2 separate regions of the Homo sapiens genome follow, and region 1 is linked to region 2. A link means that fine-mapping ties the variant in region 2 to the expression of a gene that starts in the linked region. Tissue or cell type: thyroid. Region 2 holds a variant in brackets; the other region holds the start of a gene. All regions are shown on one strand. Distances are from middle to middle.

Evidence for each region. PIP is the estimated chance that this variant, and not a neighbour inherited with it, causes the effect.
Region 1: RASGEF1C starts here. The variant in region 2 is fine-mapped to the expression of RASGEF1C in thyroid (GTEx, PIP above 0.99).

The regions. Positions count from the first base shown.
Region 1 is chr5:180,205,943-180,214,054 of GRCh38, reverse strand. It overlaps RASGEF1C (RasGEF domain family member 1C), which reads left to right and starts at 4,844. Exons shown (of 14, transcript NM_175062.4): 1 at 4,844-5,027. RefSeq lists a silencer at 4,709-4,928 and an enhancer at 6,053-6,845.
Region 2 is chr5:180,102,049-180,110,160 of GRCh38, reverse strand. It overlaps RASGEF1C (RasGEF domain family member 1C), which reads left to right. Exons shown (of 14, transcript NM_175062.4): 13 at 8,018-8,090. Among named protein-coding and RNA genes, the nearest start is that of RNF130, 34 kb to the right of the region's middle. The variant T/C (reference allele first, on the strand shown) is at 3,720.

The DNA.
Region 1 (8,112 bases), 100 kb before region 2:
CGCTACACACACATGCACACAACACACACATGCACACAGCACATGCATGCACACAGCATAAAACATACACCACACACATGCACACAGCACACAGGCACACAGCATAAAACATACACCACACACATGCATACACCACACACATGCACACAGCACATAGGCACACAGTACCACACATACAGCACACCCACATGCACACAGCACACACATGCACAGCACCACACACATGCATAGAGCACAAGAATGCACATGGCACCACACACATAGGCAGAGCACACATGCACACAACACATACATACACCACGCACATGCACACAACATACATACATGCACGCAGCACCAACATGCACACAGCACACACACATGTGCATAGCAGACAACACACACATGCATATACCACACACTCATGCACACAGCATCACATATATACACACACGTGCACAAAACAGCGCTACATACACAAGCATACAACACACACACATTACACACATGTGCTGCATACACATGCATAGAACACACCACACATTCACACAAGTGCACATACACATACTGCATATACCATGCATGCACACATGTGCAAATCCATATACACACACACACCCTCTCTCTTGCTCCTCCCAGCCCAGGCTCAGTGGGTTGGCAGCCCTGGACTGTAAAGGATCATTAAATGTGGCCCCCTCCCGTGGCTGACTATAGGATGACTTCTCCTGGAGCTCTGCCCTTGCAGTAACTTTGGAGGGTTTTCACCAGACCAAGAATGGACGAGTTACGGGTCGGCTAATAAAATGCTTTGGCCAGAGCCCAAAGTTCTGTCCTCAGTGTTTCCTGATTTTATTGGTGAACTTGCTCAGCAGCCTTGCCCGGTGCCCCTTCCCTGAGTCACGTGCTGTGGCTGTGCCAAGCATCCCGGGCAGACGTACTGCAGGGCCTCACAGGCTCCTGCTCTGCGTAAGCGCCTGCAGCTGCTGGAGCCCGTGCTGTCCTTCCTTCCTCCCTGAGGACCCGCACCAGGCAGGCACCCGCAGGCCCCGCTGCCTCCAGACCTCCTCCACATGCCCCTGGCCCCACAGTCCCAGCAGGTGCTGTCTGCTGTGAAGGGGCTCCTCGCCCTCCTGGGAAAGGTACCCCATTCATCCTGCCAGGACCCCTGCCATCGCTGTCACTTCTCACACATTCTCCTATCTCCCATCATCCAGTCCTGTGGCTTCTCCCCCAGAAACAGCCCTCAGGTCTGCCCCATTCCCTGCCCCCTGCCCAGGTCTGTACTCATCAGCTCTCCCCTGCCTGCCAACTCCTCGTGGGCCTGCTGCCTGTCCCTCGTGGCCACACCCAGTGAACAAGGACTCCAGCCCCACTAACCCAGTGCTGCGTTGGTGGGGCACACTCAGGTCTCCCAGAGTCACACGTGTGCAGGATGTGCCATCCAGGCCAGGGGCAGCTACGCAGGGGCTGAAGGTGCTGGGAAAGGCCTCATGGGTGTCAGGACCCCTACATCTGGGGACAGCACCACCCCCTCCTGCTGGGGGTGCTGCTGGCAGAGCTGCAGCCACACCTGCCCCTGTGTCGACACCCAGAGGACAGGATCCAGCTCCTTGCCCACCTGGACACCCTGCCTGGCCCTGTTCCCTTCCACCTTGGCTCCAGCCTCTTTTTTGCAAAAACAATGCAAAGTCCATGCCAGCCACAGGGCCTCGCCCTTGCTATTCTCTCTGCCCACGGTGCTTTTCCCAGACCCTGTATGGCCAGTGCCTTGTCTGATGTGCCTGGAGAGGCCCTTCCTGGGCCCTCCCTTCTAAAGCAGCCCCACCGCACTCAACCACCTCCCCAGTATGGCTTCCTTCATGGCGCTCGGCGCTCTCCGAAATGATTGTTTTTACTCTTTTGTTTGTATGGTTAGTTTTCAGCCTCCCTTCTCTAAACCATGAGTTCCAGGGGGCAGGAACCCCATGTCGGGCTCTCTGCTATATTCCCAGCACCCAGCATGGTGCCCGGCACACATAGGCCCTAGGTAAGTGTCCACCCAATAGATGTCTCAGGGCAGTGGTGGGGTGAGGGGAGACTGAGTTGACGGCCCTAGGGATGGCTCACCCTCTGTCCCAATGCCCTCACTCAGGGATTAGCCCCGGGGCACGTTCTGGAGTGAGAAGTTGGGTGGGCAGGGTAGGGGCTGGGCAGGAGAGGTTCCTTGCTAGAGGGCACTCCTGGGTGGGCTATGAGGGGGCGGGAGCAGATACCTCCCAGGGCCCAGTGGTGGCACCTGCAGCCAGGGTCCCACAAAGCTGGAGGCTCAGGGCAGAACTCCACGCTGGCCGCGAGGCTCAAAAACCTTCCTGGTGTTGCATGAGCCGCGACTGCAGCTCATGCGTCTTCCTCAGCACAGGCCCAACTCTCGGCAGCGATGGGTCTGGCAGGGAGAGGACGCAGGAGACCTCAGGGGACACGGTCTTCTCCTTTGTCCCAGAGCAAAGCTCTGCCACCCTCACCCCTGTGGGACACGGAGCTGTGGCCATGAGCTAGTCCACACCCATGTTCCAGTTGCCCTGGCCTCATCCAAGCATCCCCTACCCTGCTCCCAGCAGGGCAATCATGCTTCAGTGGCCCCAGCCACTTGCTGGAGAAAGTTCTTTATCAGGGGACAGCAGCCTTTGCTCACAGAGCAAGGGTGAGCTGGGGAAAGACTGGCCTCACCACCCTGACCTGCACTTGGTTAGGAGGGCCGCTCAGTGCTGCCCAGACCCCAGAACAACACAGCTGAGTGGGTCAGCTCTTCTGAGGTGCCTCTTGCGGCCTCTCCTCCTAGACTCCTGGCTTCCTCCAGGCGACACCCTGGGACTGGACCTGAGGCTTAGGGGCATAGGGTGATAATCGGAGAAGATGCAGGGAGGGCCCAGTGCCTGCACCCTGAGGCGCATCTGTCTATCTGCTGGGAGCACACTGCTCACCCCTGACCAAGTGCCTGCCTCTGTTCCTCCTCCCTTTCCCCACACCTGACCCTTGGTCTCAGATGTCACCCTCCCTAGGGCCAGCCTCTGGCCCTGGCCCTGGCCCCAGCCCTGCTGTCTCCCTGCCTAGCTACCTGGCCCACATTCATTCTAATACATCTGTATGCCCTAGGCAGCTGCCTGCTCTCTCCAGGACTCAGTTTCCCTAACTGTTCAAGAAATGGGCTGGACTGTTGTTCTTAACCTGTCCATTCTTCCAGGAACAGCCTTCACGGAAGCTTGGAACAGCACCTTACTCCATCCTCAAAGCTGACACAGGACTAACTCTGCCTCAGCTCTAGTGAGACGACACCCAGGCCTGCTATTCCTGCTCCCTAGGTCTTTGGAAATGGCCTGAGCTCAGCTCCTCGGAGCCTGTGTGTGGCAGCCGCAGGCTGTCCTTGCAACTATCAGGCAGCTGTGCCCTCTCTGAGGTGTCAACCCAGGGCCATTCTGCCACAGAAAGACTGGGAGATAGGGGAGGCCAGTTTCTATGCACATAGGTTAAGTACCTGGATCTAGCCATTCCTCTAAGCAGTAAACCTTGGCTTTTTATGATCCACAAACCAGCTTTTTGCTCAAGCTGGTTGGGTTGAGTTTTGGGCCACATCTCATCAGGCAGGTCCTGACTAAAGCAGAGTGAGGTGAAGGCAGCTGGAACTTCCGTGTCGGGTGGGGACTTGGAGAACTTTTCTGGCTAGCTAGAGGATTGTAAATGCACCAATCAGCACTCTGTAAAAACGCACCAATCAGCACTCCGTGAAACGGACCAATCAGCAGGACATGGGTGGGGACAAATAAGGGAATAAAAGCTGCCCGCCCACCCCTCGCCAGCCAGCAACAGCGGCGACCGGCTGTGGTCTTTTTCCCTGCTGTGGAAGCTTTGTTCTCTTGCTCTTCACAAGACATTTTGCTGCTACGCACTCTTTGGGTCTGCACCACCTTTTTCTTTTCTTTTCTTTTTTTTTTTTTTTGAGATGGAGTCTTGCTCTGTCGCCCAGGCTACAGTGCAGTGGTGCAATCTCTGCTCACTGCAAGCTCCACCTCCCCGGGTTCACGCCCTTCTCCTGCCTCAGCCTCCCGAATAGCTGGGACCACAAGCGCCCACCACCAAACCTGGCTAATTTTTTTGTATTTTTAGTACAGACAGGGTTTCACCGTCGCACCACCTTTAAGAGCTGTAACACTCACTGCCAAGGTCCCTGGCTCATTCTTGAAGTCAGCCAGACCAGGAACCCAGCGGAAGGGACAAACTGCGGACACAGGAGGACAGGTGTCCTGACCTCTATGCTGGGACCAACCAGGGAACTTTTCACTGAAGACCCAGTTCAAGGAGGCCACTGGATCCTGTTAGAGCCCCTCTCCCTTTCTAAAAGTGAAATCATGCATCGCCATCCTCCCAGAACCCCGGTGTCTTCAAAGTGGTGTCCACCCTCCCTGGGGGCCACGGGAGAGCGCCGAGAAGGTTGGGGAGGGGGGGTGTCCACCCAGGGATGTCCCATTGGGGGACACAGACAACCTAGGTGGCCAGTCCAGAGAACCGGGCCGGGCCCAGTCTTGAGGAGAGAGGGTGAACTGGGTTTTGGGGCGCCAGAGGCCCACCAGGTGAGGTGTAGGCTGGGGCAGCTGGGGCGCAGAGTCCGCCAGGGTCCGCGCGCGGGAGGGCAGCGTCTGACGGCCCGAGCGGGTGGTCCTGGCGCGGGGGGCCAGCCGCCGCGGAGGCCTGAACGCAGGGCGGGACGCTTGGCTCCGCGGCCGGGGCACGGAGGGCCCTGGTGTGCAGCGCCGCCCGCGGGCTCCCGCAGCTCCACCCCCGCGCCCCGCCCGCTCCGCGCTGCCTGAGTGCCACGAGGGGGCGCAGCGCCGCGTTGCTCCGGGGCCGCCGCCAGGCGCTCGTGCGGGCTGCGCTGGGAGCCGGGCGGTCGGGCGGCGGCGGCGGCGGCGGCGGCGGCGGCGGCGGCGGCGGGCGGCGCCCCGGTCCGCGGCGCCGAGGCTCGCACCGGGAGCTGCCCATGGGCCGGGCCCGGAGTTCCGGCGCGCCGGGAGCCGGTGAGTGGTGCGCGGCCGAGGGACACCTGGCGGTGCGGGCAAGGGCGCGGGCTCGCGGGGGCTGGGGAGGGCTGCCGGCGGCGCGGCGGGGTCGGCGGGAGGCGGGAGGCTGCGCGCGGCGCGGGAGCGTGCGCCGGGGTCAGCAGGGGCGGGGTCCGCGCGGCCGCCGGGACTGGAGGCGCGGGGGTAGCGGGTAGGGTACCCTGAGGGCACACCCCCGGCCACCTGGCGGGAGACCCAGCTCTGCCGCGCGCCGCCAGCCCCTGCTGGGCGCGAGGAGCAAGCTTCTTTCAGCCGCTAGAGTGGCAGGAAGAGCCAGCCTAGACCAAAGCCTCCACCCGCACCGGACCTCAGTTTCCCCGTCTATGAAATGGGGACGGGAAAGCAGACCTGCCGGTGCACGTGCAGAAGGGAAAGGGCCTTGCGCCTGGGGGAAGAGGGTGCTGTCACCCTTGAGGATGGGATCGGATTTGAGGAAAGGACCAGCGCCACTATCAGAGGGCCTGCGAGAACAGTGGGGTCTGCTGGGAGTCCTGGGTGTGTCCCTCACGCAGTGACAGCGGACGGCATCAAGGGACCACCTGGTCCACTCATTGTATTTAGATTGGGAAAGCGATGCTTGGGGGGACTTGGGGAAGGGTGCTGGCGACGCCGCCCCATGCTCAGCGTGGGCGTGGGAAACTGTGGGAAAGACAGAGCTGGGAAGTTGGGGTGCTGGTGGAGCTCTTCCGGGCCCGTATCTCCTGCCTCCTGGGGCTGTGGGAGAGACAGAAGTTCTGAGCCCCGGGAGCCTGAGAAGAGTCCTGGGAAGCTCTGCCTGCCAGGCAGGTGGAGTAACTGAGGTTTAGAGAGGGGCGGGACCATGGAGTGGCAACGCTGGGGTCCCACCTCTGGTAAGACTGGCTCCAACAGCCATAGTGCAGCCACTGTGCAGGCGACCGGTGGAGGGGGGCTAGGGTTGTCCACTCACTGGCCACATTCATTGAGCGCCTACTGTGTGCCGCCTGCTGCCTGCCCCCGTAAGTGCTCACTAGCTGGTGTGGGAGGGGACACCAAACAAGAAATCAAAGGCAAAAGCAAGGACATGGCCAAGATCTTATGCGTGCTGGGAAGAACATGCAGTAGGGTGACTGGGGCAGAGGGAGACCAGGGCGCGGCGGAGCCTTCGTCTGGTCAGGGAGGCTGTCCTGAGCGGGGAGCCCAGCCTGTGATGGACGGGTAGCCCGGGGGAACAGCGCGGGTGAGATCCCTGAGGGCAGGAGGGGGCGGAGCTGGAGCTGAGACGCTACAGGGTCTGGACGTCCTGGGCAGCCCCCAGGCGGTTTGCAGGTTGGGCGTCGAAAGGCTGCCCGTGGCGGCGGGTGGGCGCACTGCCGGGGCAGGAGAGGGAGGGCAGGCGAGAGAGGGACGGGCTGCGGAGCCCAGGGCGGGACTGGCGAGGGGGAGCCCGCAGGCCACCAGGTAGAGGTGGGGCCCTGCCCGGGACCTGGCCCTTTTCAGGCCGGGGTCTGCACCCTCCTGCCATGTCCCCGCCAGTCTCTGAGGTGGTTCCAGCTCTCACTTGTACCTGGACCCAGATCCAGAGTCAGCCATTTGTCCAAGGGGCCTTGGTTCCTTGCGTGGGACCCGGGCTTAGTGTGGGGCGTGCACTCGCCGCCTCTAGGCCTTGTCAGTGGACCAAGCCAAGGCCCCTTTTTTACTAAAAATTAATATTTCCTTTCCCTTTCTCCTGCAGTGAGAACCTTATTCCCCCAAACATGAATATATTTCATCATTTACTTAGCTCCACAATGCACCCCGAAAGAGTTTCAGAATGACTGCATCCACACCGAAGCCAACCAAAACCTGCTAGGTCAGCATCGGGATTTCCACGGGTGTGCAGGCAGAGTGCTGTGTGGTGACGTTATCAGTCGGACACACTGTTAGCTTCGTGTGTTTCTACTTGCATTCAATTTGGAGCTTTTTTTCCTTTAGACTTTAGGATGTAATTTTATTTTTTGAATACGTAAAACACATGGTTTAAAGGTCAGAACTATTAAAAAGCTATCCTTAAAGGTCTCAGTCCCACCCCTGCATCTTCTTCCTTGTTCCCACACCATTGGGAGCCATTTAAAATATTTTCTGGTTTATCCTTCCTGTGTCTCTTTCTGCAAAACAAGTCATTTAAGCATTATCACAAAAGTTAGCCGTACAGCTCCTGGTTTTTCTTCAGTTAGAAGTATGTCCTGAAAGTAACTTCTTACCAGTTCATGGAGACCTGGCTCATTCTTTTTTACACTCACATAGTATTTCGTTCTGTGGCTGTACTATTATTGTTTATTCAAATTATGTCCTCTGGATGAACAATTTTGTTTTTTTCCAAGTCTTTTTAAATTTAAAATAATGGAGTAATGGATAACTTTGCACCTATATTGTTAATGTTTGCAAAGGTGTATATTTAGAACACACTTCTAGAAGTAGGAGTGAATGTGGATTTATTTTGTTAGCTAGTCCCAAATTCCTTGTCAAGAGGTAGCACCGTTTTGCATTCCCACCACCGATGTATCACAGTGTCTTCTGTTTCCCCACAGCCTCGCTGGTTTGAGAGCTGAGAAACAGTATTTCAGTGTATTTTAAATTTATATTTCTATTATTATAAATGAAATTGGACATCTTTTCACATAGATTTGGAATCATACTTAGACTTTTCTAACTATGAAAAGCCCAATTATAAAGCAATCATCTGTGTTTTCTAATATTTGTTTAGTTGTGTACTTAGTCTCTGCATCCAATTTAATCTTTTTCTAAGTGTCTGGCACTCTGTCCCAAAGCCATTTATTTAAAAGGTCATCTTTCCTCCAGTGATCTGAAATGCACCTTTCTCATACACTAAAAATCCAAGCCCTGGGCCTGTTTCTGGGCTTTCTAGTGTGTCTCACAGGTCTGTCTGTTCCATCTGTTCACATACTGGTGAAAGAGAGAGAGAGAGAAAAAATATATTTAAAGGCAAGGAGGGCCTGGCACAGTGGCTCACGCCTGTAATCCCAGCACTTGGGAAGGCTGAGGCAGGCAGATCACTTGAGGTCAGGAGTTTGAAACCAGCCTG
Region 2 (8,112 bases):
TATCTGGAAAGCGGGGTGATGTGAGAACCTGCTCCCCAGGGCCCCGGGGAGAATGCCTGGAGCTGCCCAGGCGAAGTCCACACAATTACCCTCAATCCACACTAGTGCGTGAGTTTCCTGTTGGTGCTGTCACAAATCACCACAAGCTTGGTGGCTCAAAACAACACAGATTTATCCTTACACACTTCTGGAGAGCAGAGGGCTGAAATGAGTTTCCTTATACACTTCTGGAGAGCAGAGGGCTGAAATGAGTTTCCTTATACACTTCTGGAGACCAGAGGGCCGAAATGAGTTTCTCTGGGCTAAAATCAAGCTGTCAGCAGGGCTGGTTTCTTCTGGAGGCCCTGAGAGGAGAATCTATTTCCTGGCCTTTTCAACTTCTAATGGCCACCTGTATTCCTTGGCTGTGGCCCCTTCCTTCATCTTCCAAGTGCATCACTCCAATCTCTCCTTCCATCATCACATCATCTTCTCTCCACCTTAGTCAAATCTCCCTTTGCCGTCCTCTTATAAGGACACCTGTGATTGCATTTAGGGCCCCCACATATAATCCAAGATATTCTCCACATCTCCAGATCCTTCATTTAATCATGTCTGTAAGGTTCCTTTTTGCCATAGAAGGTAACATTCAAAGGTCCTGGGATTAGAACCTGGATACCTCTGGGACCATTATTCAACCTAATTATTATTATTATTTTTTTTTGAGACGGAGTCTCGCTCTGTCACCCAGGCTGGAGTGCAGTGGCGCAATCTCGGCTCACTGCAAGCTCCGCCTCCCGGGTTCACGACATTCTCCTGCCTCAGCCTCCCGAGTAGCTGGGACTACAGGCACCCACCACCACGCCCGGCTAATTTTTTTTGTATTTTTAGTAGAGACGGGGTTTCACCATGTTAGCCAGGATGGTCTCAATCTCCTGACCTCATGATCCACCCGCCTCAGCCTCCCAAAGTGCTGGGATTACAGGCGTGAGCCACCACGCCTGGCCCTACTACCCTAATTATTATGATGATTGTTGTCATTAGCCAGTGACCTCTTCATGGAACTTGGGCATTAAGATGAGTTAAAGACACATGAGGAGAGGCATAGAGGAGTCTCAGGGCAGAGAGGGAGAAAAGGGGGGCATTTTATTTACTCCTTTAGTCAACCATATGTCTTCAGAGACTGCTGTGTGCCAGGCAACAATCTAGCAGTTAACACAGACAAAACTGTGGCCCTCCTGGAGCCCCGTTAGAGAGGGGCATCTTCCATTTTTACTGTCTCTTCCTTCTGTCCCTCCCACAACCCCAAAAAAGTGGAGGGAAGTAAGGTAAGAGACCTAGGATGTACTGAGCCCCAGCTGGGTCACTTACAGCCTCTGACAAAAACCTGGCCCTGACCTCAGCTCCAGGCTTCCCTGGCAGGGCCCACCTGGCAATTAGTCAGACTTGAATCTCCTTGAAGCAAATGAAAATATAGAAAGTCTCAGCAAAGAAACAGAAGATATAATAAGGAAGAGCCAATGGGAGTTTTAGAACTGAAAAATACAATAACTGAGATGGAAAACTGAGTGAATGGGCTTAACAGCAGAATAAAGAAGGCAGAGGAAAAAAATCTATGAACTGGAAGATGGAACAATAGAAATTATACAATCTGAACAACAGGGAGAAAATAGACTGAAACGGCTGGGCGCGGTGGCTCGTGCTTGTAATCCCAGCACTTTGGGAGGCTGAGGCAGGCAGATCATGAGGTCAGGAGATCGAGACCATCCTGGCTAACACGGTGAAACCCCATCTCTACTAAAAATACAAAAAATTAGCCAAGCGTGGTGTCGGGCACCTGTAGTCCCAACTACTTGGGAGGCTGAGGGAAGACAATCACTTGAACCAAAGAGGTGGAGGTTACAGTGAGCCGAGATCGCACCACTGCACTCCAGCCTAGGCCATGGAGTGAGACTCTGTCTCAAAAAAAAAAAAAAAGAAAGAAAGAAAATAGACTGAAACATATTTTCAGGGACCTGTGGGATTATAACCAAAGATCCCACACTCATGTCATCACAGTCTGTGGAGGAGAGGAAAAAGAGGGCAGGACTGAAAAAGTACTCAAAGAAATAATGGCTAGAAAGTTCCCAGAGTTGGAAAAAACATAAACCTACAGATTCAAGAAGCTGAATGATCCCCAAAAGGAAAAACTAAAGAAACCCCTACCAAGACCCATTGTAGTCAAACTTCTGAAAACTGAAGGAAAAGAAACAAATCTTGAAGCCAAGTGCAGTGGCTCATACCTGTAATCTCAGCACTTTGGGAGGCTGAGGCAGGTGGTTTGGTTGAGGCCAGGAATTCGAGACCAGCCTGACCAACCAGCCTGACCAACATGGCGAAACCTCGTCTCTACTACAAATACAAAATTTAGCCAGCTGTGGTGGCACATGCCTATAATCCCAGCTACTTGGGTGGCTGAGGCACAAGAATTGCTTTAACCTGGAAGGCAAAGATTGCAGTGAGCCAAGATTGTGCCACTGCACTCCAGCCTGGGTGACAGAGCAAGACTCTGTCTCAAAGAAAAAAAATAATTAAAAAATAAATTTTTTTTTAAATATTAAAAACACTGAGAGAGAAATGACACTTTACCCATAGGGGGAAAACACTCTGAATCATGTCAAATTTCTCATCAGAAACCAAGAGGCCAGAAGACAGTGGCACATTTTTCAATTGCCAAAAGAACTGTCAAGCCAGAATCCTATATACGGTGAAAACATCCTTCAGGAATTAACTATAGATAAATCAAAATAGAATTCTAAAAGCTGTTCAGGTAAACCACAGGAAGACAAGAAAAATAAAACAGAGAACAAAACACAGAACAAAAAGAAAACAAAAAAATAGACAAAAAGGCAGACTTAAGTCCTAACATACTAATAATTACATTAAATGTAAATGGTCTAAATACACCAAGTAAAAGAAATTGACAAAGTCGATTTTTTAAAATGATCCAACTATAGGCTATCTACAAGAAACTCACTTCACTATAATGATAGAGACATTTTGATAAGTAAAAAAAGAAGAAAAGATATAGCATGCTAATATTAATTAGAGGAAAGCAAGAGTAGCAATATTAATTTCAGATAAAGCACACTTTAGGAGAAAGAAAATTACCAGAAACAAAGAAGGACATTATACAGTAATAATAGGGTCAGTCCCCCAAGATATAGCAATCCTAACTATGTATCCACCAAACATCAGAGCTACAAAATTCATTAAGCAAAAGCTGATCAAACTGAAAGGAGAAATAACTAATCTACAATTACAATTGAAGATGTCAACACCCTTCTCTGAACAATTGATAGAACAACTAGACAGAAAATCAGCAAAGACAAAGAACTCAACAATATCATCAAACAACAGGAATCTAATCAACATTTACAGAACACTCCATACAAGTGCAGTAGAACACACATTTTTTAAAATTGCCCCCAGAATATAGACCAAAATATACCATCTCCTGAGCCATAAAACAAGCTGAAACAAATTGAAAGTAACTGAAATCATAACACACTATGTTCTTCAACCACAGTGGGATTAAATTATAATCGGTAGCATCAGACAACAGAAAACTCTTGAAACATTTAGAAATTAAATGACACACTTGTAAATAATCCATGGGTCAAAGAGGCTCATGGAAAATTTAAAAAATAATTGAACTGACTGAAAATACAATCAAATTTGTAGGACAGCTAAAGCAGGAC[T/C]CAGAGGAAATCTTATAGCACCAAATGCATACATTAGAAAAAAGGGGAAGTGTCAAATCAATAATCTAAGTTCCTACATCAAGAATCTAGAAAAAGAGGAGCAAAATAAACTCAAAGCCAGCAGCAGGATGGAAATAAGAGCAGAAATCAATGAACCCGTAAGCAGAAAAACAATAAAGTTAATCAAAGGGCTGGTTCTTTGAAAAGAACAATAAAATTGCTGCCATCTAGCAAAGAACCTCTTGACAAAGAAAAGGAAAAGACACAAATTACTGATACAGTAGTCCCCCCTTATCTGTAGTTACCCTCAGTCAACCGTGGTCTGAACATACTAAATGGAAAATTCCAGAAATAATTCATAAGTTTTGAATTGTGCACCATTCTGAGTAGTGTGATGAAATCACACGTCATCCCACTGGGTTCCTCCTGGGACATGATTCATCCCTTTGCCCGGCATTTGTGCTGTGTTTATGCTGCCTATCAGTCACTTAGTGGCCACCTCAGCTATCAGATCAACTGTCAGTGTCACTGTGCTTGTGTCCAGGTAACCCTCATTTTACTTCTTTTTTTTTTTGAGACAGAGTCTCGCTCTGTCACCCAGGCTGGAGTGCAGTGGCACGATCTCGGCTCACTGCAGCCTCTGCCTCCCAGGTTCAAGCGATTCTCCTCCCTCAGCCACCCAAGTCACTGGGATTACAGGCGTGAGCCACCACGCCCAGCTAATTTTTGTATTTTTAGTAGAGACGGGGTTTCACCATGTTGGTCAGGCTGGTCTCGAACTCCTGACCTCAAGTGATCCACCAGCCTCAGCCTCCCAAAGTGCTAGGATTACAGGTGTGAGCCACCGCGCCCAGCCTATTTTACTTCTTTTTTTTTTTTTGAGACAGAGTCTTGCTCTGTCACCCAGGATGGAGTGCAGTGGCGCAGTCGCGGCTCACTGCAACCTCCGCCTCCCGGGTTCACACCATTCTCCTGCCTCAGCCTCCCGAGTAGCTGGGACTACAGGCGCCCGCCACCACACTTGGCTAATTTTTTGTATTTTTAGTAGAGACGGGGTTTCACCGTGTTAGCCAGGATGGTCTCCATCTCCTGACCTCGTGATCTGCCCACCTCCGCCTCCCAAAGTGCTGGGATGACAGGCGTGAGCCACCGCGCCTGGCAAAGTACCTGAGCAGTGATGCAGGCAGTTCAGATATGGCAAAGGGAAGCTGTAAAGTGCTTCCGTTAAATGATGAGGTGAAAGTTCTCAAGGGAAAAAATTGTATGCTGAGATTACTAAGATCTACAGTAAGAACAAACTTATCCATGAAATTCTGAAGAAAGAAAAATAAATTCTTGCTAGTTTTGCTGTTGCATCTCAAACTGCAGAAGTGCCTGATGAGTGCTTAGTTAAGATGGAAAAGGGATCCAAGACAAGTATATACAGGATTCCGTACTATCTGCAGTTTCAGGCAGCCACCAGGGGACTTAGAATGTATCCCCCACAGATAATAGGGGACTACTGTACCAGGAGTAAAACAGGATATCACTAACGACTACAGACATTGAAAAGATAATAAGGGAATACGACAAACAACTCCACACACACGAATTTAACAATTTAAATGAAATGAACTAATTCCTTAAAAAGCACAAATTACCACAACTTGACATAAAATAGATAATTTGAATAGCCCTGTGACTATTAAATAAATTGAATTTATAATTTTAAAACTCCCAAAAATGAAGTCTACAGGCTCAAATGGTTACACTGGAGACTTCTACCAAATGCTTAAAGAATTAACACCAATTCTCCACAATCTCTTCCAGAAAGTGGCAGAGGAGGGAGCCTCCTGATGAAGCCAGTTGTCTTAGTCAGTTTGAGCTGCCGTAACAAAATACCTTAGACTGGGTAATTCATAAACAACAGACATTTTCTTACCACTGAGTTTATATATATATATCTACAGTTTCAGAGGCCAGAAATCCAAGATCAAGGCAGATTCTGTGTCTGGTGAGGGCTGCTCTCTGCTTCTAAGGTGGAGCCTTCTTGCTGTGTCCTCGCATGGCAGAAGGGGCAAATGCTGTGTCCTCATTTGGCAGATGGGCAAAAAGGGGCCAGACTGGCTCCCTCCAGCCCTTTCATAAGGGCACTAATCCCATCCATGAGGGTGGAACCTCATGGCCTAATCGCCTCCTCCAGACCCCACCTGTTAGTTAACACTGTTGCATTCGGGATTATGTTTCAACATGAATTTTTCAGGGCACAAACATTCAAACCCTGGCACCAGTATTACCCTGATACTAAAACCAAAGACAGTACCAAAAAAAGAAAATACAGGCCAATATCCCTCATGAATATAGACACAAGAATCCTTAACAAAATAAGCAAATAGAGTTCAGCAATATGTAAAAATAATTATACGTCATGACTAAGTGGGTTCATTCCAAGGATGCAAAGCTGTTCAATATTTGAAATTCAATCAGTGTGATTCACTATACTAAACAGCTAAAGAAGAAAAGACACATGATTATATTAATCAATGCAGAAAAGGCATTTGACAAATTTCTACACGCATTTATGGTAAAAACTCTCAGAAACTAGTAATAGAAGGGAATTTATCAGCATGACAAGTTGCATCCACAGAAACGCTTCTGCAAACATTATATTTAACAGCAGAAGATTTAATGCTTTCCTCGTAAGACCAATAACAATGAAAGGATGTTCACTCTTCCCCACTCTTAGTCATCATAGTAATGGAAGAACTAGTTAGTGCGATAAGGCAAGAACAGGAAGTAACACACAAATCAGAAAGAAAAATTAACACTGTCCCTATTTGCAGATGATGAGGAAAAAAAATCCCAAAGAATCTACAAAAACCCCTAGAACTAATAAGGGAGTTCAGCAAGGTTGCAGGATACAAGACACACATGCAAAAATCAACCATGTTTCTACGTATGAGCAATAAACATGTGCACGCTGAAACTAAAATGATAATACCATTTACAGTCACTCACATGAAATATGTAGGTGGAAATGGAACAGAACACGCACAGGACGTGTACGCTAAAAGTTAATGCTGATGTGCCGGGTGCGGTGGCTCACGCCTGTAATCTCAGCACTCTGGGAGGCCGAGGCGGGCGGATCACAAGGTCAGGAGATCGAGACCATCCTGGCTAACACGGTGAAACCCCATCTCTACTAAAAATACAAAACATTAGCCGGGCGTGGTGGTGGGTACCTGTAGTCCCAGCCACTCGGGAGGGTGAGGCAGGAGAATGGTGTGAACCCGGGAGGCAGAGCTTGCAGTGAGCCGAGATCGCGCCACTGCACTCCAGCCTGGGCGACAGAGCGAGACTTCTGTCTCAAAAAAAAGTTAATGCTGATGAAAGAAATCAAGAAAGATGTAGATAAATGGAGACATAGGATGTTCTCGAACGCAAAGACTGCATAGCAAAGGTATTAATTCTCCTCCCAGAATTTAAGTACAGGTTTAATGCAATTCCTACCCAAATCCCAGCAAGACTCTTTGTAAGATAGAGACGAGATTCTCCTAAAATTTGTATCGGAAGTCAAAGGAACTAGAATTGCTAAAACAATCTTGAAAAGGATTCGTGGGAGGAATGAGTCTGCTTGATGTTAAGGCTGATATGATAGCGCTATGGTCGTTAAGACAGCACAGTATTAGGGGAGGGATGGACGCATGAATCAATGGGACAGAATAGAGAACCCAGAAAGAGACCCACGCAAATATACCAGGTGATTTTTGACAAAAACAAAACAAAACAAAACAAAACCCAATGGAGGAAAGCTAGCCCTCCAACAAACAGTGCCGGAGCATCCGGACATCCACAGACCAAAACATGAACCCCAGCCCAAGCCTCACACCTTATACAAATAATTAGCTCAGCATGGATCACAGACTAAAATGTAAAATGTAAACCTATACAGCTTTTAGCAGGGAAAAGCAAGAGATAACCCTCAGAATATAGGGCTAGATAAAGAGTTTCTTATTCCAAATATGCCACTATGATATGGCCCAGCCATTGCATTCTTGGGCAGTTAGTTATTCCAGAGAAATAAAGACTCATGTATTTATACATCATTTGAAGTGAGTTTCACACAAAAGCAAAAGCCCTCACGCAAATGTTATAGAACTACTGTCGTTAAGACAGCACAGTATTAGGGGAGGGATGGACACATGGATCAATGGGACAGAATAGAGAACCCAGAAAGAGACCCACGCAGATATAGCAGGTGTAGAACAGGTTATTATCATCAACCATAATTGTGAAATTTCACTTCATTTTCTGTCTAGGTCTTTATTTGGCTTCTTACGAAAGTGAGAGCCCAGAGAACCAAACAGAAAAAGAAAGATGGAAAGCTCTAAGGTGAGTCTTCCTGCCAAGGTGG